Linked DNA regions of Homo sapiens: regions 1 and 2 are each linked to region 3. Evidence: fine-mapped expression QTL. A gene starts in region 3. Each other region holds a variant in brackets. All regions are shown on one strand. Distances are between the middles of the regions.

Region 1 (8,338 bases), 390 kb after region 3:
AGGCACTTCTGGCCAATGCGGTGGCTCACGCCTAAAATCGCAGCGTCTTGGAAGACCGAGGTGAGTGGATCACCTGAGGTCAGGAATTCAAGATCAACCTGGCCATCCTGGTGAAACCCTGTCTCTACTGAAAATGCAAAAAATCAGACGAGTGTGGTGGGGTGTGCCTATAGTACCAAGCACTCGGGAGGCTGAGGCACAAGAATGGCTGGAACCCGGGAGGCGGAGGTTGCAGTGAGCCCAGATTGTGGCGCTGCACTCCAGCCTGTGCGACAGAGTGAGACTCCATGGAAACACAAAACAAAACAAAGTCAAATGAGCAAACAAACAAACAAACAAACAAAAAACAGAGAGGCACTTCTGACGCAGGCCGCAACATGGATGAACCTTGAAAACATTATCGTCAGTGAAATAAATAAATCCCAAAAGGATAAACACGCCCAGTCTCTGTGGCTCGCACCTGTAACCCCAGCACTTGGGGAGGCTGAGCCAGGCGGATCACTTCAGATCAGGAGTTCGAGACCATCCTGGCCAATATGGTCTCTATTAAAAATACAAAAATTAGCTGGGCGTGGTAGCGCACGCCTGTAATCCCAGCTACTCGGGAGACTGAGACACAAGAATCGCTTGAACCCACGATGTGGAGGTTGCAGTGAGGCGACATCACGCCACTGCACTCCAGCCGGGGTGACAGAGAAAGACTCTGTCTCCAAAACAAAAAAATTAAACACGGTATGATTCCACTTATCTATCAAGTGTCTAGAGTAGTTAAACTCATAGAGTTGCAAACTAGAAAGGTGTCCCCCAGGGGTGGGTGAGAGAGAGGAGTGGAGAGCTTGGTGAAAGGGTGCAATTTCCATTTTGAAAGATAAAACTGTTCCGGAGACGATGGCGGTGATGGTTGCTAAACAATGTGAACGTACTTAATGTCATGAAACTGTAAACTGAAAAAGCGTGGAAACTAAATGTTTATACTGGCCATTCTATATAAACTAATATATATTTATAATTTTTAATATTTATATGTGGTATATTTTCCCATAATAAAAGATGAAAATTAAAGCAGTTGGATGTTTAAAAAGAAAAGAAAGAAGTGAAGAATACACACCAGCTTTCTCCTGATTAGAGGAAGAGCCCCAAAGCTTCTATGGACACTCACTTTTCTCTTCTTCTTCTTGCATTATTATGAGGAAATCTTTAGAGGTTGGGGAACTTGGGTGACTTTGGCTAATAAGGAGCTCTGTGCCTTGAGCACCCCAGGCCACAGAATAGTAAATAGTCAGTCTGTGCCTCCAGCCCTGCAGTGTGAGGTTCCAGTCCTGTGGGCTCCACTCCCGTCACCAGTATCAGGAGGCTCATGTCTCAACCTGTCTTCTTGCCAGCCTTGAGGCCGGAGTCTGAGCCTCCATGGTGCACCACACAGGGAGGACAGTGGACCTGTTCTCCGTGGTCATGGCCCAGCAGATGGGAAGGGCAGTTCAGTGAGTGTAGGCAAAAGAAAGAGCAATCAGACTGTTACTGTGTCTATGTAGAAAGGAAAGACATAAGAGACTCCATTTTGAGAAAGACCTGTACTTTCAACAATTGCTTTGCTGAGATGTTGTTAATGTGTAGCTTTGCCCCAGCCACTTTGACCCAACCTGAAGCTCACAAAAGCATGTGTTGTATGAAATCAAGGTTTAAGGGATCTAGGGCTGTGCAGGACGTGCCTTGTTAACAAGATGTTTCCAAGCAGTATACTTGGTAAAAGTCATCGCCATTTTCTAGTCTCAATAAACCAGGGGCACAATACACTGTGGAAAGCCACAGGGAGCCCTGCCCTTGAAAGAGGGGTATTGTCCAAGATTTCTCCCCATGTGATAGTCTGAAAAGTGGCCTCGTGGGAGGAGAAAGACCTGACCGTCCCCGAGCCCGACACCAGTAAAGGGTCTGTGCTGAGGTGGATTAGTCAAAGAGGAAAGCCTCTTGCAGTTGAGAGAGAGAAAGGCCACTGTCTCCTGCCTGCCCCTGGGAACTGAATGTCTCGGTATAAAACCCGATTATACATTTGTTCAATTCTGAGATGGGGGTAAAACTGCCCTATGGCTGGAGGTGAGACATGTTTGCAGCAATGCTGCCTTGTTATTCTTTACTCCACTGAGATGTTTGGGTGGAGAGAAACATCAATCTGGCTTACGTACACGTCCAGTCATAGTACCTTCCCTTGAACTTCCTTATGACATAGATTCTATTGCTCACCTCTTCGTTGCTGACCTTGTCCTTATTATCACCCTGCCCTCCTACTACATTCCTTTTTGCTAAAATAATAAAAATAATAATCAATAAAAACAGAGGGAACTCAGAGGCCTGTGCCAGTGCAGGTCCTTCGTATGCTGAGCGCCGGTCCCCTAGGCTCACTGTTGTTTCTCCATACTTTGTCTCTGTGTCTTATTTCTTTTCTCAGTCTCTCATCCCACCCGACTAGAAATACCCACAGGTGTGGAGGGACGGGCCACACCTTCAAGTGAGTGCTGAGGGACGGTTGGGAGCCTTGTTTTGTTTCCTCCTCAGGACAAACAGGAGAGTGCGGTGGGCAGATGGGAGGAGACCAATGTGCAAACTATCCGCTCAGCAGAGTGTGGAGTTTCTGTTCCTGGTTGTGCTGGGGATCTCAGAAATCTACTTCAAAATTTTGCTACCCTCCCCCACTGGTTGTCCTTTTCATAGACATCTCACCCACGGTAGCAGGGAATGAGTCCCTCTAAACTATTCCCTCAGGAATAGTAAAAGCCAGCCCCTCTTCCCCCCTTGTCTCTTAGGACCCCCATCGCAGGGGGGTGAGGCACCCATCGCGATGCGGGGAGTAAGAGCCTGCCCCTCTTCCCCCCGTGGTTTTTAGGATCGGCGGTGGACTCACAGCCTGTTTACCACATTGTGAGTAATATCATCTCCCCTCTGGAAATTGTGATCTATTTCACAGACGGGTGTACACCCGTCTGTATTGGGAGTAATATCATCCTCTTCCTCCCTGAATATTAAGAACAGTATCACAGGGGTATTTCTACTCCCTGCGTTATTCGGTGTCATATCCTCCTCTCCCACGTTGCAATTAGAGACAATATCAGTGGGGGCGTGTCCACCTTCTGTGATATTTAAAGTAATGTCATCCTCTTCCCTCCAGGATCATGGGAACAATATCCCTGGGGGGTGTCCACTTTCTGCGATATATGTAGTCATATCACCCCCTACGCCTTTGAATATTACGAAGGACCATCTCACACGGGGGTGTACACTTCCTGCGATATTGGGAGTAATATCAACCTCTCGGCCTCTGAATATGAGGAAGAAAATCACAGGGTGGGTGTACACCTCCTGCTCTATTATGGGGAGTCATATCTATCTGTTATGGAGAGTAATATCATCCTCTCCCTTTCAGGATATTAATAACAATATCACAGGGTGGGTGAACACAGCCTGCGATGCTGGAATTATTATCACCCTCTCCTCCTCGGGATACTAGGAA[C/G]AATATCACAGAAGAGGTGTACACTCCCTGCGATACTGGGAGTAATATCATATGCTTCTTCCGTGAATATTAGGAGCAATATCACCGGGTGGCTGTACATTCATTGCTATGTTGGCAGTCATGTCATACTCCACCCGCTGGATATTAGGATCAGTGTCACAGGGTGAGTGTACACCTATTGCGATATGAAAACTAATATCATGCTCTCCATCCCTGGATATTAGGAACAATATCGCAGGTAGGTGTACACCCCCTGCTGTATTAGGAGTAATAATACTATGAATTATTAAACATCAGTCTCATTAATGATTATCAATGGTAATATTAATTAATAGTATAATTTTATTAGTCATTAATGATTATTTTAAAGATATGATTATGCATGATTAAAATTAATTCTTACTATGAATGTCATTTTTAATATTAGTTATTAATATTAATATTAATCATTGTTTTATTACCAACATCACTTATGATGGATTTAAGTAACATTAATTAGTGATATCATTATTTTATTATTAATATTGATATTGCTGTTAATTATTAATTGTAATCATTAATATTTTTATCCACATTAAGGTTTACTGTCTCCACTGTAGTTATTAATATCAATGATTACTATTAATTGTTATTATATTTATTAATATTAATAATTAATAAAACTGTTCCTGATATCTGTGGGGGAGAGGATATGACTCCCAATATCGCAGAAAGCGTTACACTCCTCTACGATGTTACTCCTAATAGCCAGGGGGTAGAGAATGACATTATGGAAAATATCGCAGTGGGTGTACATCCCTTCGGTCATCTTGTTCCTAATATCCTGGGTGGGAGCGGATGTTACGACTCCCAAAATCGCAGTGGGCGGAGACCTCCCCCGTGATACTGTTCCGAACATCCAAAGGTGGAGAGGATATTTCTTCCAATTTCGCCGGGGGTGCTCACCACCCCTGTGATATTGATCCTAATATCCAGGGGGCGAGAGGATGATATTAGTCTGAATATTGCAGGAGGTGTACACTCCCTAGGGTTATTGTTCCTTATATCCAGGGACAGAGAGGATGATATCACTCCCAATATAGCAGGGGGTGTACACCCCTTGTGTAACATTGTTCCTAATAGGCAGCGGGGGAGAGGAGGATATTACCCCCAATATCGCAGGGGGTGTACACCCCCTTGTGACATTCTTCCTTCTATCCTGGGAGGGAGAGGAAGAAACTAGCGGCAATGTCGCAGGGGCTGTACACACCCACTGTGATATTGTTCCGAATATCCGGAGGGGGAGAAAATGATGTTACTTCCAATATCGCAGGGGGTGTACATGTTCCTGAGATATTGTTTCTTAGGTTCAGGCGGAGAGGATGATATTACTGCCAATATCGCAGGGGTTGTACACACTTCCCGCGATGCGGGGAATAAGAGCCAGCCCCTCTTCCCCTCCTGGCTCTTAGGACCCCCATTGCAGGGGGTTGAGGCACCCCCGGCCATGCGGGGAGTAAGAGCCAGTCCCTCTTCCCCCCACTGGCTCTTAGGACCCCCATCGCAGGGAGGTGAGGCACCCCCCGCGATGCGGGGAGTACAAGCCAGCCCCTCTCCCCCCTGGCTCTTAGGACCCCCATCGCAGGGGGGTGAGGCACCCCCCGCGATGTGGGGAGGGCTGAGACTGGGGTCTGGGCTGTTCCGGACTTCAACACTCACCCCTTGTCCCCCCGCAGGGCTATGGCGTGTGCTCGGTGGGGCTGGAGCGGCTGGCTTACGTCTTCGTGGCTTACAGCCTGGGCGCCTCAGCCGCCTCACTCCTGGGCCTGCTGGGCCTGTGGCTGCCACGCCCAGTGCCCCTCGTGGCTGCAGCAGGGGTGCACCTGCTGCTCACCTTCATCCTCTTTTTCTGGGCCCCTGTGCCTCGGGTCCTGCAACACAGCTGGATCCTCTGTGTGGCAGCTGCCCTTTGGGGCGTGGGCAGCACCCTGAACAAGACTGAACTCAGCAGTGAGTATAGCTGTGGGCACTGGGGGGGGGGGGGGGCGGGGCAGGATGCTTTATGGCTATCTGTGGGTGGTTGGCTAGACATAGACATCCCAGGGACAGATATGGGGTCCCATGGTCACATAGGGTCCTGTGGACATGGCAGAGGCAGGTGGGGCTTCCTGTGGACACTCCGGGGGTGGAAGGGAAGTTTCATGGACACACTGGGGGCAGATGGGTAGGGCGTGGACAGCCTGGAGACAGGTGTGGGGGTTCCACGCCATGGACATTCCGTTAATACCCCAGGGCGGGCACAGGGCCCCATCAACACTGGAGGGTCAGTGTGAAATCTCTTGGCTACAGGGGGCAGGTGTGGGGCTCTGTGGACACCCCTTAGGGATAGTGTGAAAAACACATCAGGGATTCTCCCTTTTCATACCAGGGGACAGGGCTTACCTGGCATAGTTTTCGTGACACTTGGAGCAGATGTTTTGGTCTCTGCCTCACGGAGCATGTGGTAGGAGCAAGTGGCCTGTTGTACATCCACGGCATAGATACAGACATGGGCCTTTGCATAGAGAGGAGCAGGCCTGCAGCCCCAACCCAGTCTGCTCAGTACCAGAGTCCAGGCACCAGGTCTGGGCTGCTGGGGAACAGGGCCCTGTTTGCAGAAGGCAGCGGGTGGGCCCATGTTCAGCTCCAGGATGCTCCCTGCCCACAGATGGGCACACGCAGTGACACACAGCTAGCACACATAGGCACAGTCCTGCGGGACATCCATGTCAGTGTCTGTTCTGATGGGCCGAATCTAAGAACAGGTTTGAACGTCATCCTTGGGGGTGTGGAGTGGCAGAGGTCATGCCTGCTCCTGGCAGGGCAGAGGGTGGCTCGGTGTCTCTGTCTGTAGCAGGGGCTGGAGCCTCATACTGCACCACAGTCTCTTGGCCGTTTTGCCCAAGGATAGCCAATTCTGGGCCGAGTCCATCCTGGGTATCTTGGACCCATGTTGTGCCCTCTCTGGTCATGGCATCCCCTCTGCCCAGCTCCATATCCCATCTCCTCTGGTGAACCCTGGGGGATCCTTATCTCTTCATAGCAGCACTGTGGGGGTAAAGTCACCCTGCAGGGCCCCAAGACAGGAGTGTTCATGTCCTGAGTGCCTGGTGAAGGTGTTAATAGTGGCCCCTATGATTTGGCAGGTGCCATGCCCACTTTCTCACTTTAGAACTTCAGAACACAGCACACAATAGGCATAGGCTCATGTCACCATTGGGAAAAGCAGCTCTGGGGAGTTAAGTACCCAAATCACCCACGGAGACAACATTACAGTCCTGAGAACGAGTGTGCATCTTCTGACTCCCAATCCATTACTCTTGTTGCCCACCCTGGGAGGACTCACTGGAAGGGAAGCCCCCCTTTCCATGCTTAGCTTCAGGTTTGATTTGCAGAGTTGGCAGCTGCAAACAGTTCGATCTCTCTAGTCCCGGCTGAGAAGGAGAAACAGCGCCTGCAAGCTTGGCACTGCACACCTGGGGTTGGGGACAGGACATGACTAAGCACAGAGCTTTCTTCTTTTGAGGCCACGCATGTGGTGCGGAGCGGGACCACCTGCATCCACACAGCCCGGCGCACCTGCTCCTACTTCTGCTTAGCGTATGAGCAGTGTGGTGACCAGGGTCTCCACCAGGGGGCAGGCCAGGACCGGCTCACAGCACTTTCTAGGTGCTCTCTGGTCCCGGGCTGGGACACATACAGGGCTTAATAAAGTTCATAGATGGTAGCTAGGCATCCCCAGGCCCCAGGTGACACCTATCCCCTGACTGCCCTGCACTGCCTGCCTGCAGCACTCCTGGGAATCTTGTAAGAAGACAAGGAGAGACAGGACTTCATCTTCACATCTACCACTGGTGGCAGGCTGTGGCCATCTTCCCCGTGTACCTGGGCTCGAGCCTGCACATGAAGGTGAGACTGGGCAGGGTTGGGGGCCCCATGCCCAGTGACAGGTACTTCCTTAGCCCCTGCCCTGGCTGCACAGCTTCCTAAACGCCACCCCTTCCCAAGCCAGTCTCTGGGCCAAGGCCCCATTCCTGCAGCCCACTGGGTGGCCCCCAACTCAGCACCCCACTTACTGGCCCACCTCCAGCCAGTCTCAGTTTGCCCATCTCTGAGGGGATTTGTGGGTGCATCACAGCCATCCTGTGGGCTGTTTGGTACCCTGTTGTCCAGATGTTGGGTCTGTCTCCCTTCATGGCCTGAAGGGGAGCAGGCTCCTCATGCTCTGCTCCCAAAAGATGGTGGCTCGGTCTAGCAAGTCCCAGTTGCTAAACATTTTTTAAAAATAGAACTAAAGGCTGGGCACGGTGGCTCACGCCTGTAATCCCAGCACTTTGGGAGGCCGAGGCGAGTGGATTGCCTGAGGTAGGGAGTTTGAAACCAGCATGACCGACATGGTGAAACCTCGTCTCTTCTAAAAATACAAAAATTATCCGGGCGTGGTGGCAGATGGCTGTAATCACAGCTACTCGGGAGGCTGAGGCAGGAGAATCGCTTGAACTGGGAGGCAGAGGTTGCAGTTAGCCGAGACGGGGCCTTGGCACTCCATCCAGCCTAAGCAACAAGAGCGAAACTCCGTCTCAAAAAATGAAAATAAAAATAGAACTAAAAATAGCAGGGAGTGGGCTGGGAGCAGTGGCTCATGCCTGTAATCCCAGCATTTTGAGACGCTGAGGTGGCTGTATCACCTGAAGTCTGGAGTTCGAGACCAGCCTGGGTAACAGGCTGTGAAACCCTGTCTCTACTAAAAACACAAAAATTAGCTGGGCATGGTGGCACGTCCCTGTGATCCCAGCTACTCTGGAGGCTGAGGCACAA
Region 2 (8,338 bases), 42 kb before region 3:
TGTTCCTGTGTTAGTTTGCTGAGGATGATGGCTTCCAGCTCCATCCATGTCCCTGCAAAGGACATGATCTCATTCCTTTTTATGGCTGCATAGTATTCCATGGTGTATATGTACCACATTTTCTTTATCCAGTCTATCAATTGATGGGCATTTGGGTTGGTTCTATGTCTGCTATTGTAAATAGTGCTGCAATAAACATACATGTGCATGTGTCTTTATAGTAGAATGATTTATATTCCTTTTGGCATATATACCCAGTAATGGGATTGCTAGGTCAAATGGTATTTCTGGTTCTATATCCTGAGGAATTGCCACACTGTCTTCCACAATGGTTGAACTAATTTACATTCCCACCAACAGCCTCACCAGCATCTATTGTTTCCTGACTTTTTAATAATTGCCATTCCAACTGGCATGAGATGGTATCTCACTGTCGTTTTAGTTTGCAGTTCTCTAACTATCAGTGATGTTGAACTTCTTTTCATGTGTTTGCTGGCTCATAAATGTCTTCTTTTGAGAAGTGTCTGTTCATATCCTTTGCCCACTTTTTGATGGGGTTGTTTGTTTTTTCTTGTAAATTTGTTTAAGTTTCTTGTAAATTCTGGATATTAGACATTTGTCAGATGGGTAGATTGCAAACATTTTCTCCCATTCTGTAGGTTGCCTGTTCACTCTGATGCTAGTTTCTTTTGTTGTGCAAAAGCTCTTTAGATTAATTAGATCCCATTTATCAATTCTGGCTTTTGTTGCAATTGCTTTTGGCGTTTTCCTCACGAAGTCTTTGCCCATCCCTATGATTGCCTAGGTTTTCTTCTAGGGTTTTTATGGTTTTGGGTTTTACATTTAAATCGTTAATCCATCTTGAGTTAATTTTTGTAGAAGGTTTAAGGAAGGGGTCCAGTTTCAATTTTCTGCATATGGCTAGCCAGTTTTCCCAGTACCATGTATTAAATAGGAGGTCCTTTCTCCATTGCTTGTTTTTGTCAGACTTGTCAAAGAACAGATGGTTGTAGATGTGTGATGTTCCTTTTGAGGCCTCTGTTCTGTTCCATTGGCCTATATGTCTGTTTTGGTACCAATACCATGCTGCTTTGGATACTGTAGCTTTGTAGTATAGTTTGAAGTCAGATAGCATGAGGCCTCCAGCTTTGTTCTTTTTGCTTAAGATTGTCTTGGCTATACAGGATCTATTTTGGTTCCATATGAAATGGCCTCTTCTTATAAAAGCATCAATCTCATTTATCAGGGCTCTACCCTCATGACCTAATCACTTCCCAAAGGCCTGATTTCCAAATACTATCATATTGGGATTAAGATTTCAATATAGAAATTTTGGAGGTAACACGAACATTAGTCCACTGCATTCTGTTCCAAACCCCGCAAAGATCATATCCTTCTCACATGTAAAATATATTCATTCCATCCCCAAAGCCCTCAAAGTTTTAACTCATTCTAGCATCATCAACTCCAAACTCTTATCTAAGTATCATCTAAATCAGATAAGGTGAGACTCAGAGTACAATTCATTCTGAGGCAAAATTCACAGCTGCAAACATGTGAAACCAAACATGTTTTCAAAATACAGTGGTGAGACAGACATAGATAGACATTCCCATTCTGACACGGAGAAATAGAAAAGAAAGAAGGGTTAACAGATCCCAAGGGAGTCCCAAACCTCACAAGACAACTTTCACCAGGTCTTCAGGCTGAAGATAATCCTCTGTGGCTTGATGCTCTCCCCTCTAGGGCCACTGGACACACTGGGGCAGAGGTACAGTCTTGCAGACCCACTTGGGAGGTGGTCTTCTCCAAAAAGCTCTGCTGGACAGGACTTGCAGCTCCAGGGCTCTGCCAGGAGGTGGTATCCCCAACAGCTTTGGGTGGAGCTCATTTCTGTTGAAAGCAAGGCAATGGTCCCTCCTTTTGAAACTAAGAAGGTAACCTACTGACCTCTGCATTGCCCTTGGGTTCATTCTTCCCCTTGTCTTTAACAAGAGCACACATTCACAACTGAATAGCTCTATAGTCCTGTCCTGTAAAATCCAAAAAGTCCAACAACTTTCCTTCATTCTTTACCATCCCCTTCCTATTTAGTTCAAACTGACAGTTGTCCTGCTGGGAAACCGCTGGTTGATTAAGTCCATGGTTCACACCTATACTGACCTCCATATCAAATGGTCAGTTAGCCACACCCTTAGTGTTATTTTCCAAACACACTTTCTCCATTTTTGCAATATGAGTAGGCTGAGAATTTTCCACATCTTTAAGTTCTAGTTCCTTTTGCTCGATAATTCCATCTTCAAGCCATTTCCATCTTCTTATGTTTTGCCTTAAGTGGTCAGAAGGAAGCCAGTGACTTCTTCAACACTTGGCTTAGAAATCTCCTCTGCTAAATATCCACTTTCACTGCTCACGAGTTTTATCTTCCACAAAAATACTAGAATGCAAAGACAATTCAGCCAAGGTTTTTTGCCACTTTATAACAAGGATTGCCTTTTTTCCATTGTCTAACAATTTGTTCCTCATTCCTGTCAGACACCTCATCAGAATGGCCTTTATTAGCCATATTTCCACCAACATTCTGTACACGATTATTTATGTATTCTCTAAGAAGACAGAAGCTTTCTCAATACCTCTCATCTTTCCTTTCTGAATCATCTTTAAAAGTACTTTTGGCCAGGCACAGTGGCCAAAAGTGCTGTAATTCCAGCACTTTGAGAGGCCAAGGCAGGAGAATAGTTGAGCTCAGGAGTTGAAGACCAGCCTGGGCAACATAGCAAGACCATCTATCTACTAAAAATCAAAAAAATTAGTCAGGTGTGATGGCACACATCAGTAGCCCTAGCCACTGGGGAGGCGGAGGCAGTAGGATTACTTGAGCCCAGGAAGTCAAGGCTGCAGTGAGCCATGATTGCACCACTGCTCTCCAGCCTGAGTGACAAAGCAAGATCCTGTTTTTATGTTTTTTGTTTTTTGTTTTTAGTGACAATTTTGACCTTTCCTAGTATGCACTTCAAAAGTCTTAACAATTTTGACCTCTCCTAGTGGGCACTTCAAAACTCTTCCAGCTTCTACCCATTACCCAAAACTGCTTCCACATTTTTAGGTATTTGTTATAGGAGGCACCCCCACTTTTTGGTACCAGTTTTGGTCTTCATCAGTTTAAGCTGCTATAACAAAATATCACAGACTGGCTGGCTTATAGATAACAGAAATTCATTTCTCACAAGTCTGGAAGATGGAAAGCTGAGATCAGGTTGCCAGCATGGTGTGGTTCTGATGAGGACCCTCTTTTGTGCTGCAGACTGGAAAAATTAGAGTTTGGAGTAAAAAGTGGCCATGACATAAGGGACTAGATACCAGATGACGGGGAACCACAGAGAAGTGAGTCCTACAGTCTGTATATGATTTCTCCCCAAGAGAAATCCTGTGTAATCACAGAAAGAGGCCCAGAGAACCCCACTATAAAGCAACTTCTAAAGCTAAAAGATGAGCAGAGAACATGGCAGTCTCATGGGGTTGGGGAAATAAAAACTGGAGTTCACAGCAAGTTAAGGATTAGGGCTCCCAACAAACACCTCAAGCTTTCCACCGAAACCCTAAAAAGGGTTAGAATAAGAGGAAATGTGAAACAGGCCAGCTGTGACTAGATAAAGATGATTTGGCCATACTCTATGTGCCAATAAGAAGAAAATTAAACCCTTTCTGAAAGAATATAACACCAACCATAAGCTCTATAACTTTTCATATGCAATTTTCAGCCTGCAATAAAAAATTACCAGGCAGGACAGGCAACATGATTAAATGCTGAAAATCAAGAGAAAAATGGAGAGTAAAAACAGACAGCAGAAGAACCAGGTATTGAACTTTCCAGACATAAACTTTAAAATAGCCATGATTACAATGCCAAAAGACAGGCAGAGTGGTGGAGAAAATCCCCAGAAACTGGCATCTATTTAAAAATAGCCAATTGGAAATCCTAAAATTGAAAAATATACAATAGAAAGTAAAATTTTAATTGTTAGCTCAGTATACCTATCAGAAGAGAGAACAAGTGAACCAGAAAATAGAAATATAAAAATATTCAAACTAAAGCAGAGAGAAAAAGGATAAAAATACAGAAAATTAGACATATATATGGGACCAAGTAGAAGATATTTAACAACATGTAATTGGAGGCACAAGAATACAGGAGAGAAAAAATGGAGCAGTTGGTGGCGAATTGCACGTGTCAACTTGACTAGATTGTGGTGATTCATTGTTTGGTGCTGGGTTCTGAATGTCTGTGTCCTCCCACAAAATTCATGTGTTGAAACCGAAGCCCCAAGGTGATAGTATTAGGAAGTGAAGGCTTTGGGAGGTGATTAGATCACAAAGGTAAAGCCCAGATGTGGAGTAAAAGGGGAAGAAAGGTGGGTAGGATCTGAAAACTGTTAGCATGAAACATAAAAATATATAGTCTGGGCTGGGCGCAGTGGCTCATGCCTATAATCCCAGCACTTTGGGAGGCCAAGGCAAGTGGATAACCTGAGGTCAGGAATTCGAAACCAGCCTGGCCAACATAGTAAAACTCCGTCTGGGTAGCTGATGGGATGGTGCCCACCCAGAGTGAGGGTGGGTCTGCCTCTCCCAGCCCGCTGACTCGAATGTCA[A/G]TCTCCTCTGGCAACGCCCTCACAGACACGCCCACAAACAATACTTTACCAGCTATCTAGGCATCCCTCAATCCAATCAAGTTGACACCTAATATTAACCATCACACCAATTAAAAATAAAATAAAGGTAAAATGAAGATACTTCAGGCAAGAAAAAACTTTGAAAATGCATTGCCAGTAGACCAACACTAAAAGAAGTATTAAAGGAAATGATTCAAGATAGAAACACGAAAAGGTAGAAATAAATGAGGAGTGCTGGGAATGGTAAATATATTGGTATATGGGTAAATATAAGTAAATTCTGACAACTTAAACCAAAAGTAACAATGTTCTCAGGAAATTAAAATATATGTAGAATTAAATACATGATAACGTAGCACAAAAAGCAGAAGGAGAGAAATGGACTAATGGTGTTGTACTAACAACACTTGCCATGGTAACATCCAAAACTAAACAGAATGTAACAAGCCAACAATGAGTATTCTACTCTCTAGGGCAGGGGTTCCCAACCTCTGGGCCATGGACAGGTAGCAGTCTGTGGCCTGTTAGGAACCAGGCCGCACAGCAGGAGGTGAGTGAGGGGTGAGCGAGCATTGCCGCCTGAGCTCCGCCTCCTGTCAGATCAGCAGCTGCATTAGATTCTCATAGGAGCGCCAACCCTATCGTGAGCTGCACATTCCAGGGATCTAGGTTGCAGGCTCTTTATGAGAATCTAACAATGCCTGATGACCTGAGCTGGAACAGTTTCATCCCAAAACCATTCCCCTGCCCCCGATCCATGAAAAAAATTGTCTTCCATTAAACTGGTCCCTGGTGCGGAAAAGATTGGGGACCGCTGCTCTACGGGAACAGGTACAGGAATAATACAGAATGCATAACGAATAAGTTAGCAGGGTGGGGAAAATGGAATAATTTTCAAAATTTTTTTAGCAATCCAAAAATTATCAGATATCTAAAATAGTAAAACCCAATTACATTGTGATTATATGAAACATTTACCTTAAAGATAAGGAGTCTGAAAAACTGAAATTAAAAGGACAGGAAAAGCTGATACATAACTACATTAACATATACTTAATAACAACACTACATAATTATAACACATACATATGTAGTTATATAACATATAAAGACAATACATTCTGTAAGGCAAGATTTGTTACTAGAGATATTTTATAATATCAAAAAGTCATTTAATAAGATAATAATTTAAAATTTGCATGCAGCAAAAAACATAGCCTCAAAGAAAGTGGGACAAAAGGAGAAACAGTCAAATCCATTATCCTAGTGGAGATTTTAAAATACATCTCTCAGTTATTGAAAGAAAAAGCAGAGAGAAATTCAGTAAAGATATAAAAGATTTTAACATGATTAATGAACTGGAGCCAATAAAAATAAATAGAGCTGGCCGAGCACGGTGGCTCACACCTATAATCCCAGCTCTTTGGGAGGCTGAGGCAGGTGGATCACCTGAGGTCAGGAGTTTGAGACGAGCCTGGCCAACATGGTGAAACACTGTCTCTACTAATAATATAAAAATTAGCCAGGTATGGCGGCACGTGCCTGTAATCCCAGCTACTGGGGAGGCTAAGGCAGGAGAATCACTTGAACCCAGGAGACAGAGGTTGCAGTGAGCCGAGATCATGTCGTTGCACTCTAGTCTGGGCAACAGAATGAGACCCTGTCTCAAAAAAAAAAAAAAAAAAAAAAAGGCAATGCAACCAACAGCTGCAGTTTACATATTCCCTTTTTTTTTTTTTTTTTGAGACAGGGTCTCACTCTGTTGCCCAGGCTAGAGTGCAGTGGCACAACCGTGGCTCACAGCAGCCTCAATCTCTGAGGCTCAAGCTATCCCCGCAACCTCAGGACCATAGATGTGCATCACCATGCCCAGCTATTTTTTTTTAAATTTTTTGTAGAAATGGAGTCTCACTATGTTGCTCAAACTGGTCTCAAACTCCTGGGCTCAAGTGATCCTCCTGCCTGGGCCTCTCAAAGTGCTGGGATTACAGGCGAGAGCCACCATGCCCAGCCAATCTCAATGAGTTTGAAAGGTTTATCATCATACAGTTATACTCTCTGATCATAGTGAAATTAAGCTAGAAATCAATAATAACATAACTAGGAAAACTCTAAATATTTATATTTATGTGTGTATAGCAGCATAAATCATGATAGCCAAAACCGGAAGCAAACCACATGCCATTCAACTGGAGAAGAAATAAACAAGCTGTGGCATATCCATACAATGGAATACAGGGCAGCAAGAAGAAAGAGCACATGACTACTATACACGGCTACAGGGAGGAGTCTTGCACGCACATTGTTGAATGAAGGAAGCCAGATATAAAAGACAGCTTACTCTATGGTTTCATTTATATAAAATCCAAAAATGAGCAAAACTAATATACAGCAACTGCAGTACAAATAGCGGTTCCCTTTCTTAGGGGATAATGACAGGAGGCACATAGGAGGGGGACTTCAGGGCATCTATCAGGCTTCATATCTTGATCTGAGTGGTGGTTCCAAGGGGATATTCATCATTTTGTAAAAGTTCTTAGTGCTGGGCACTTGAGTTATGCAAATTGCTGGATACAAGTTCTACTTTCAGAAGAAGTTTGCCCCTCGCCAAAACAAGAAACTTCATTCATAGGCTGGTTAAATAGCCAGATCTGGAGTCAGGCAGCCTGAGCTCAAATCCTGGCTCAACTGTTTACACTCTGTGTGTCCTTAGACTATGTAGCTTCTCTACGCCTCAGTTTCCTCATCTGCAAAATGGGGATATCACCAGTACTTAAGCCTAAGGTTGTTTTGTGGACTTATGAGTTGATCCATGCAAAGTACTTACCATAGTATCAAATATATAGTAAGATCTCAACTTACATTGCTCTTTTTAAAAAAGATCTTTGCAACCAACCTAGAGGGCCACACAACGTTGGGAGTAAAAGCAAGGACTTTATACCCTTGGACATTTTTCCCAGAAAAGTAAAAACTTTTGTTTGCACAAACACCTGTACGTGAATGTTCACAGCAGCATTTCTCATAATGGCCAGAAACTGGACACAGATATTCTTCAGTGGGTAAATGGTTAAAGAAACTGTGGTACTTCTATGCCATGGAACACCACTCAGTTAAAATTAAAAAAAAAAACAAAACACTACTGATGCATGCCATAACTCAGTGACTCTCAAGAGAATTAGACTGAGTCAAAAAGCCAATCCCAGAAGCATATACTTCCACTTACAGAACATTCTCGAAATAATGAAATTATAGAGATAGAGAACAGGTTTAGTGTTACAAGAATGAGGGATGCTGGGTGACATGGAGAAGTAGATGTGATTATTAAAGGCTGCAGAAGCCTGTGCTGACAGAGCTGTTGTGTATCTTGACTGTGGCGCTACATACATGGACCTACATACATGTTAAAATTGCAAAGAACTAAATACACTCACATGAGGACAAGTAAAACTGAGGAAATCTGAATAAGGCTGGTGGATTTTATCAGTGTCAATATCTTTGTTATGATATTGTAGTACAGTTTTGCAAGATGCTCCCTTTGGAGAAAACTGGATAAGAGTTACACAAATCTCTCTGTATTACTTCTTACAACTGTGCGTTCATCTACAATGATCTTTGATGTCAGTCAGCCAAGGTCAGGTAATGTCCTGACTCCATCATTTACTAAC
Region 3 (8,338 bases):
ACTGTTACGATGGTGAGTGGAGAATACATCTAATATTCCTGTTTTGGTAGATACCTAGATATGGGTTGTCATCAATCAGGACAGGCTAATTATGCTGCAGTTAACAAACACCCACAAATCTGTGGACAATTCTCAATCTTAGTACATGTCTGTGATGGTTAATATTGAGTGTCAACTTGACTGAAGGATGCAAAGTATTGTTCCTGGGTGTGTCTGTGAGGGTGTTGCCAAAGGAGATTAACGTTTGAGTCAGTGAACTGGGAAAGGCAGACCCACTCTCAATCTAGGTGGGTACAATCTAATCAGCTGCCAGCATGGCCAGAAGAAAAGCAGGCAGAAGAACATGGAAAGACTAGACTGGCTTAGTCTTCTGGCCTACATCTTTCTCCCGTGCTGGATGCTTCCTGCCCTGGAACATCAGACTCCAAGTTCTTCAGCTTTGGGACTTGGACTGTCTCTCCTTGCTCCTCAGCTTGCAGATGGCCTATTGTGGGACCTCACCTTGTGATCATGTGAGTCAATACTCCTTAATAAGCTCCCCTTTATATATACACCTATCCTATTAGTTCTGTCCCTCTAGAGAACTCTGACTAATACAATGTCCTTGGTTGGCTATGCTCCATGTCATCTTTACTTAAGGACTCAGGCTGATGGAACATTGGAACATTAAGGGTTGTCATAGCAGAGGGAAAAGAGCATCGTGAATCATACATTAGCTCTTAAATTTGCTGCCCAGAAATTACACGTTGGTTTTCACTGGCAGCCTACATCTAGTCTCCTTGCATAGGTGTTGCTGCTGTAGTGAGCTATATTTAGGGGTGCCAATACAGTTGATCCTTGATGACTCCTCCACCCCTCACAGTTGGAAATTTGTGTATAACTTCTGACTCCCTAACATCTTAACTAATAATAGCCTACTGTTGACCAGAATCCTTATCAATAACATAAACAGTCCGTTAACACATATTTTGCATGTCATATGTATTAGATACTGTATTCTTTCAATAAAGTAAGCTAGAGAAAAGAAAATGGTATTAAGAAAATCATAGGAAGAGAAAATATATTTACTATCCATTAAATGGAAGTGGATCATCATAAAGTAAAGGTCTTCATACTCACCATCATCACATCGAGTAGGCTGAGGAGCAGGAGGGGTGGGTCTTGCTGTCTTAGGGATGGCAGAGGCAGAAGGAAGTCCGAGTATTAGTGGCCGCATGCAGTTCAAGCCTGTGCTGTTCAAAAGTCGACTGCGTATTTTTCAGAACAGTGTCTGGCCCACTCAATGTTTGCTGAATGCATAAAGAAAACAAAATTTGTATACTACATCCAACTGGGCAGTTGTGTGCTACCTCCAACAGGCCAGGCATGGTGGCACGCGCCTATAGTCCCAGATACTCAGGAGGCTGAGCCGGGAGGATTGTTTGAGCCCTGGAGTTGCAGTAGTATACTCTCACAACATTTCTGCACATCCTTTTAACCCACATCCCCTCTCAGCTTTATGGGGCTTAATATTAGTCAACTGTCAACTGAAGTCACTTTGCTCTTTTAAATTAAAGAGTAAACACAAAATGTAAAAAGCACAACCCCATATCCCATGGTCTGTGGAAAGTTCAGCAGCCTCCTCAAGATCTTTGTGACTTATTTAGGAATTTTATGTACTTGTGGTCACTTGTGGATTTACAGCCTGATGTTTTGAGCTCACTTGGGTCTTATATCCACCACAATCTTCTCTGCTCTTGCAAATCCAGACAGAAAACTTAGATCTTTGTCCCTACCCTTCTACCCAAAATATCCAACTGCACCAAACACACGGTTTACACAAGGCACCACTCACTGAAGGCTTGGTGTAGTTCAGCCTCCCTCCCACTCAAAGATCCTTCCCAGTTACCTACTTTGTACTTTCCCGGCCCCCTCCCTGGGTTCTGGCTTCTCTTTTCTTCCCCCCAATTCAATCCCCCTCACTTTATTATGCAGGGCAATCTCTCTTTCCTTCTACTCTACCCCAGGCTTAACTTTGCATGGCCAAAAACTGATTAATGTCTGGATTAAACAAAGGGCCATTTATGCAAGATAGAATCATTGGCAGAGATTTTGTAATTTCTTTCTCTTTTCCTCAGTAGGTGGAAGAAAGCTGTATGGAAATTTATTTTCCTTAAACTGCAAGAAGTGGCTACAGTTTGGGTTTAAATAATCTTTTCCTGGCCGGGCGCGGTGGCTCACGCCTGTAATCCCAGCATTTTGGGAGGCTGAGGCAGGCGGATCACGAGGTCAGGAGATCGAGACCATCCTGGCTAACACGGTGAAACCCCATCTCTACTAAAAATACAAAAGAATTAGCCAGGCGTGGCGGTGGGCGCCTGTAGTCCCAGCTACTCGGGAGACTGAGGCAGGAGAATGGCGTGAACCCGGGAGGCGGAGCTTGCTCCAGCCTGGGCGACAGAGCAAGACTCCGCCTCAAAGAAAAAAAAAATCTTTTCCTTCCTCCTTTCTGGTAAATATATACTTTCTTGACATCTATTTCTGATAAACTTTATTTTTTTAACACAGTGGTTCTCAAACTTTTGGTCTCAACTCTTTTGCACACTTAAAAATTATTAAGGGCTCTAAACAATTTTGGTTTATATTGACATTATCGACATTTACTATATGAGAAATCAAAACAAAAACTTGATGTTTTTGAAAGTCTTTTTTTGGAGTCTGGCTTAATAGAAAACAGCTGTTCTGCATTTACTCCGTTGCAATATCACAGTCTCCAGCAAACTCAACTGTATGCAACTCATAAGAAAATCAGAGCGAAAAGGCAAATAACATCTTAGTATTGTGAAAATTTTATCTTGATGACCATTAAAACTGCTGTTTTAATACATATTCTACTTGTGCTTCCTCTTTATGAAAAAAGAAATCTTGAAGAAATCAATGAGATTTTGAATTAAAACTGAACCATAGGCCAGGCACGGTTGCACGTGCCTATAGTCCCAGCTACTCAGGAGGCTGAGTCCGGGAGGATCGTTTGAGCCCTGGCGTTCCAGCTGTAGTGAGCTAGGATGGCGCCTCTGACTAGCCACTGCAATCCAGCCTGGGCAACATAGTAGACCCCCGTCTCAAAAAACAACACAAAACAGAACATGAACCTAAAATGCAGAAGAAACTCATTGATTGAGTTGTCAATTTTAATAGCTATGGCTCAAGACGGTACAATTAAAAACTATGCATGAAGGATGAAGAGAATCCAGCGGCATTAGGGCCACTCTTTCACCTTTGTCTCCATCTAAACTTCCTATTCATCCTTCAAATCTCTGCACAGGTGACGCCTTTTCTCTAAAGCCTCTTCCTTTACCACAAATAACAGTGATTATAATAATAACATTATTAACGATTACTACCATTTATTGGCCACTTACTAGGAGCCAAGCAACATCAAAACACAGCACGCGTCAGCTCACTTAATTTTCACAGTAAACCCCGAGGAGGATGCTGGCTTCACTTTAAAAAGAGGTGACTGAAGGTTGGAGAAGAAAGGCCTCTGGCCTCTAGCTCTGTGCCTTGCACACCTGATCTGTCTCAGCATTTATTGCATCCCGAGGGTCACCGTCCACGTGCCTCTATCCTGCTCAAGGTGAGTTCTTGCAGTCAAAGGTCAAGGGTGGCTCGTCTCCACTTCCCCCGCAACCAAACCGCCCGGTCTCAGTGAGGGAGCCGCCAGAAGGGAAGGAGCCTCCTAGCTTCCCGGTCCTCACGCTCCCGGAGCCCACACGCCCCAAACAGACACAGAAGAGCTCGCTGAGCTCTCCGCGCAGCTAAACCCTCCAAGCTTTGCTGGGAGAAACCGATGCCCGAGAGCGCGTCGCGAGGTTCCTCCTCCGCCAGGTGCGCCGGCTGAGGCCGGAACCTTTTTCCTCCCGCCGCGGTAGCAGGGCGCAGGCCGGAACCTTTCTTCTCGCGTCGCCGTTGCCGGGGGGAGGCGTGTGGGGCAGGACCAGTCCTTCAGCGGCCGGGTTCGCGCCGCGGTCGCCGGCTGCTTACGTGGGCGGGCCTAGTGTGGGGCTGAGGGTGCGGGTCGCTATGGCGGTGGACATCACGCTGCTATTCCGGGCCAGCGTCAAGACCGTGAAGACGCGGAACAAGGCGCTGGGAGTGGCGGTGGGCGGCGGGGTCGATGGCAGCCGGGACGAGCTGTTCCGCCGGAGCCCCCGGCCCAAGGGCGACTTCTCCAGCCGGGCCCGCGAAGTGGTGAGCTGGTTGCTATGGAAACGGCGGGTTGAGGAGGGGGCAGTCCTGCGACAGGGACCCCGGGCCCCAAACCAGACCCCGTCCCGTAAGCATTGTGTGAAGGGGGTGGCTCTAAGGGGGACAGAAGAGTTGGCCTCAGAGACCCTACAGCTTTTTGGGGGAAGGAACAGCCTTATTTTGAGGAAGGGGGACGCATATTGGGGAACAGATTTCTCCTGCGGCGACAGGGATTGGGGGACAAGAAAGGAGATCCTCAGAAATCTCTATCTGGAAAGTGCATGGGCGGCTTTGTGAGGTCATGAGTTCGCCGTCACTACAGACTTGCACTCAGGGGAAACCTCCTGACAGTCCTTCGCTTCCTGTTGCAGCACTGACCACACCATATTTGCCTGTTCTATTTACTTGTCTGCCTCCCACCCCTAGTTGAGATTAAAAACTGTATTCAGCCGAACTCTTTCTTCCCTTTGTCTCTGCAATAAGTAGGACTCAGTTCCTCTTGAGACGGGTTTAGGGTAATCTTTCGCAAACACAGTGTTACAGTCACCTCAACTACTTTCTGTTCCCTGATCAGAGCAGGTGTCCCTTCATCTCCCTGGGAACAGGAACCTTTTCCTTAAGGGCAGGGACAGTGTTGTTTTCATCTCAGAATGCATGACTCATAGCATTGCTTAGTAAATGTTTGTTGAATGAGTGAATGAACAAATGGCTGTCTTTCCCATTAAACAGAAAACTCCATAAGGGGAGAGCTGTTTGTCTTGTTCCCTTTTGTGTTCGTGACACCAAGGAGGTATCTAGGTTTTGTGGGGCCTACAGCTTATATAGTTCTGTCTGCCCTCTTCAAGAAATAAAAATCACCAAGAAAGATTCAGAGCTTTGGAAGATTGAAGAGAGGGACCCTAAAGCTTAAGCCTCATTAATTTCACAGTAAATCCTTCTCTGCTTGGCATACACTTGGCACTGTATAGACACTCAGATATTTTTGAATGAATGTAGTCATGCATGCATTAATGACAGTTAGCAGAGGATACTTAAACATTAGAAAGGGGATTGGACCAGATGAATACACTCGCCCTATTGATGACCGTCTATGAAGCACCTACCTTCTGACCAGCCTCGTGTTAGAGTAATATGATGTAAAAGCAGTGGTGGAGTAGACGGACATAGACATAAAACAAGTGCCATAAAGCCTTGCAGGTGTTGTGTAGGGCACAAAAAGAATGTGGTCAGTTCTACCTGAGGACCAGAAAAGGCTTTATAGAGGCGATGATGCCTAAAACAAATCTTGAAAGAGGATTAGTTGGTTCCAGTGCAGAAGGACATCTCAGGCTAAGAGAATAGTATGCGCTAAGCTGTGGAGGTAGGTAACAGTCTGACATAAGTTGGTTCAATAAACATTTGAGTGAGACTGGAATGTGGGACTCTCATAAAAATTGGACGCGGAGATCTTAAAGGGCTTTGTGTATCATTGCAGAGTTTGAATTTTGCCCTGTAGATGGTCAGATGTTATCTGGTAGAGAAAGCACCAGAGAAGGAGCCAAGAGACGAGGTTGTTGTCTGAACCCTGCAACTATTAGCTATATGATTTCATTAAGCAAGTTTTAAGACCTCAGTTTATTTACCTGTAAATGGTCCTTTTTTTCTCCTCCTCCTTTTAAAAAACTACCTTGGTCCTCTATATGTAACAAATTAAAGTGGGAGCTTCCTAGGTTGAAATAAGAGGAAGAGAAACAGGACACTCTCCCTCCCAGTTTGGCCCAAGCACTTCTTGAGATTCCTTTTGTAGAACTGTGGTATGAATATCACAGTATTGGCTTTTTAAGGGTCCCTTCTAACTCTGAAACCACTGATTTATTAACACTGTGCTAATTTTGAGTCCTGCTCAGGGAAAGGGGGGATTTGGGAATGGTAGAGACAGGAGGCACAGTTGGGTTGGCAAGCCCTTTGGAGAGCCCTGTGATCACTTCCACCTCTCCCTGAGTGGTGAAAATGTGTTTGAGTTTTGAGTTAATGGGCCTCAGGGACAGTAACAGTCCCATAGGGTGCTGAGTTCCCTGTCACTGGAAGTGATTAAACAGAGTGATGACTGCTTTTCAGAGATGTTTGAGAAAAGCTTTGTGCATATGTCACAGGGTTGGACCGCATGACAATGCAACTTGCAGTTCTGCTATGTATTGATGTGAGTAGGTGTCACATCACCTTAAGTGAGTTCATGGGCTGTGTTGTTCAGGGACACTGTCCCCCTGACGTAGAGGAAACATACATTCTTTTAAGCAATTTTGATTTTATGTTGTCATTGCTTTGTGTATTATCTCCTGTTCTTGCAACCGTTCCCCACTCCCCATCTTCTCTTGTGGGAAGTTTAACTAGAAGAGCTAGTGATGGATGTCCTGTGCTTTTACTACAATTAGATGTCAAAAGTTTGGCTGTTATTTTGTTTGGCCTGGATTCCTTATAGAGAAAAGTCTGGTAAATACCAGAAGCACATATTCTAATTCAGGTTTAGCCCTGGTTGTCAGACTTAATGAAATGTAATAAGTTATAGTATGCCTTTTGGTAAGTGCCTTCCTTGAAGCATTTGCTGTTACTTCTAGGATGCGTTTTATCTGGTTCAATTTCTATTCTTCCATTCCATTCCTCAAATATATGCCTGATGCCAGATTTCCATCTCACTGAATTGTTGTAGAGGTTATATTAAGTTGAATAAAATTGCATTGAAACTGCAATTTTATTGCAGTCCCTACCTTCCAACAACAGGCTGATTGCTTCTGCATCATTCTTTTAAACATTTAACTTTTATGCTCAATTTTACTAAATTTATATATACTCAAATGCATGTCTACCCATTAAATTACAAATGGAGAGTAACGACTTTTCAGATTATTTGGGGGAGGAACTTATATTATTCGAACAACTCCAAATAATAATGAATATGTCACTCTGCAATGGGAATTTGATTAGTTAACTCATTTGAAGTGTGGGACTAGTGAGGATGATGGGATTGGAAAGAGACCTGGGCCTTGGGTTCAAATCTCGCTTCTGCTACTTAGAAATGGGTGAACTTGGGCAAGTCTGACTCTCGTTTTCCATTTCTATAAAGTGGACGTGATAATACCCTACTTAACTCACAAGCTAAGTAGGGTAGCTTCTGAGTTACCCTACTCACATAGTCTATATGTATGTATTTTAAAAAAACAGACTGATTATTATTGTTCCCCCAAACTACCTCCCCCCTCCTCATGTAGGCCATTTAGACATATTTTCTTTAGTGGCACCAAGCTGTATTTTCCAAACCACTTAGTTTTCTTGCACTTTCATTCCTTAATTTAGTTAAGTGCGTGAGGAATGAGTGAAAATCCTGAGCAGGTACTGATGAATCAGCGGTGGTGCAGAAGTACTGTCTGCATTCGTAAAAGATGGTAACATTTCTTTGCCAAGGTGAAACTCTTTCAGTGATGGCAGATGTGTGGCAGGTATGCAGCTTTTACTTTCTTTTCTTCCTTGTGATCATGGAAGCCAGTGCTAATTTCTTAGTGGATCCCTATAGCTCAGAATCCTTTGCAACATTGTACCCCAGGAGCCGTTACCTGTTATTAGGCTTGACATTCAAGTTGAAATCTACTTGACATATAGTAACAGTAGAATCTGTATGCTTAAAGCAGACCCATGTTTGTTTGTTTGTGGTTTTTTTTTTTTTCACTCAAAAGGACCTTGTGTTCATTTTGTTAATAGATAAGAAAACTAACACCCAAATAAATGAAATTACTTGCCCAAAGTCGTAGCAGTTGAGGTCATAGCACAGAGCCATAAGTAGAAGCCAGGTCCTTTGACCTGGTTTAATGCTGCTCTCCCTCTGCCCACTACATTCTCCTGTAATTTTTAAACCAGAATTTGTTTGGTTTCTGAATGGCAGTGAGTTTCTTCTTCTTGAGTTAATTCTGAATACTGCATACTGAATGGAACCTGGGGCAGAAAGACTTGGATTTGAATGTGTCTTATCTGTTATATGAACTTGGGGAAGCCACTTAATTTCAGTTACCTTATGGCTAAAATAGAGTGAGTAATAGCAACCTTATAAAGTTGTTAGGTGAAATAAGAAAAGGTATGCAGG

Direction of the effects. Positions count from the first base shown, and alleles are read on the strand shown. Sizes are in standard deviations (SD) of each study's normalised expression. Not every link is listed here.
With allele G in place of C in region 1, the expression in esophagus mucosa of the gene that starts at base 3,896 in region 3 is lower (moderate effect, 0.49 SD a copy in GTEx).

What was found.
Region 1: its variant is fine-mapped to the expression of STX18-AS1 in esophagus mucosa (GTEx, PIP 0.98).
Region 2: its variant is fine-mapped to the expression of STX18-AS1 in whole blood (INTERVAL, PIP 0.97). The same link has a PIP of 0.9 or more in prefrontal cortex.

The regions. Positions count from the first base shown.
Region 1 is chr4:4,144,674-4,153,011 of GRCh38, reverse strand. It overlaps the pseudogene UNC93B4. Among named protein-coding and RNA genes, the nearest start is that of OTOP1, 78 kb to the left of the region's middle. The variant C/G (reference allele first, on the strand shown) is at 3,503.
Region 2 is chr4:4,579,742-4,588,079 of GRCh38, reverse strand. All of the region lies in intron 2 of LOC124900165, which reads right to left. The region is part of intron 2 of STX18-AS1 (STX18 antisense RNA 1 (head to head)); the gene reads right to left. Among named protein-coding and RNA genes, the nearest start is that of LINC03091, 8.0 kb to the right of the region's middle. RefSeq lists an enhancer at 5,233-5,733. The variant A/G (reference allele first, on the strand shown) is at 4,653.
Region 3 is chr4:4,537,689-4,546,026 of GRCh38, reverse strand. It overlaps STX18-AS1 (STX18 antisense RNA 1 (head to head)), which reads right to left and starts at 3,896. Exons shown (of 6, transcript NR_037888.1): 1 at 3,552-3,896; 2 at 1,120-1,289. It overlaps STX18 (syntaxin 18), which reads left to right and starts at 3,979. Exons shown (of 11, transcript NM_016930.4): 1 at 3,979-4,230. The coding sequence starts at 4,063. It overlaps LOC124900165, which reads right to left and starts at 3,896. Exons shown (of 6, transcript XM_047416490.1): 1 at 3,552-3,896; 2 at 1,120-1,289. RefSeq lists enhancers at 3,811-4,105, 3,830-4,109.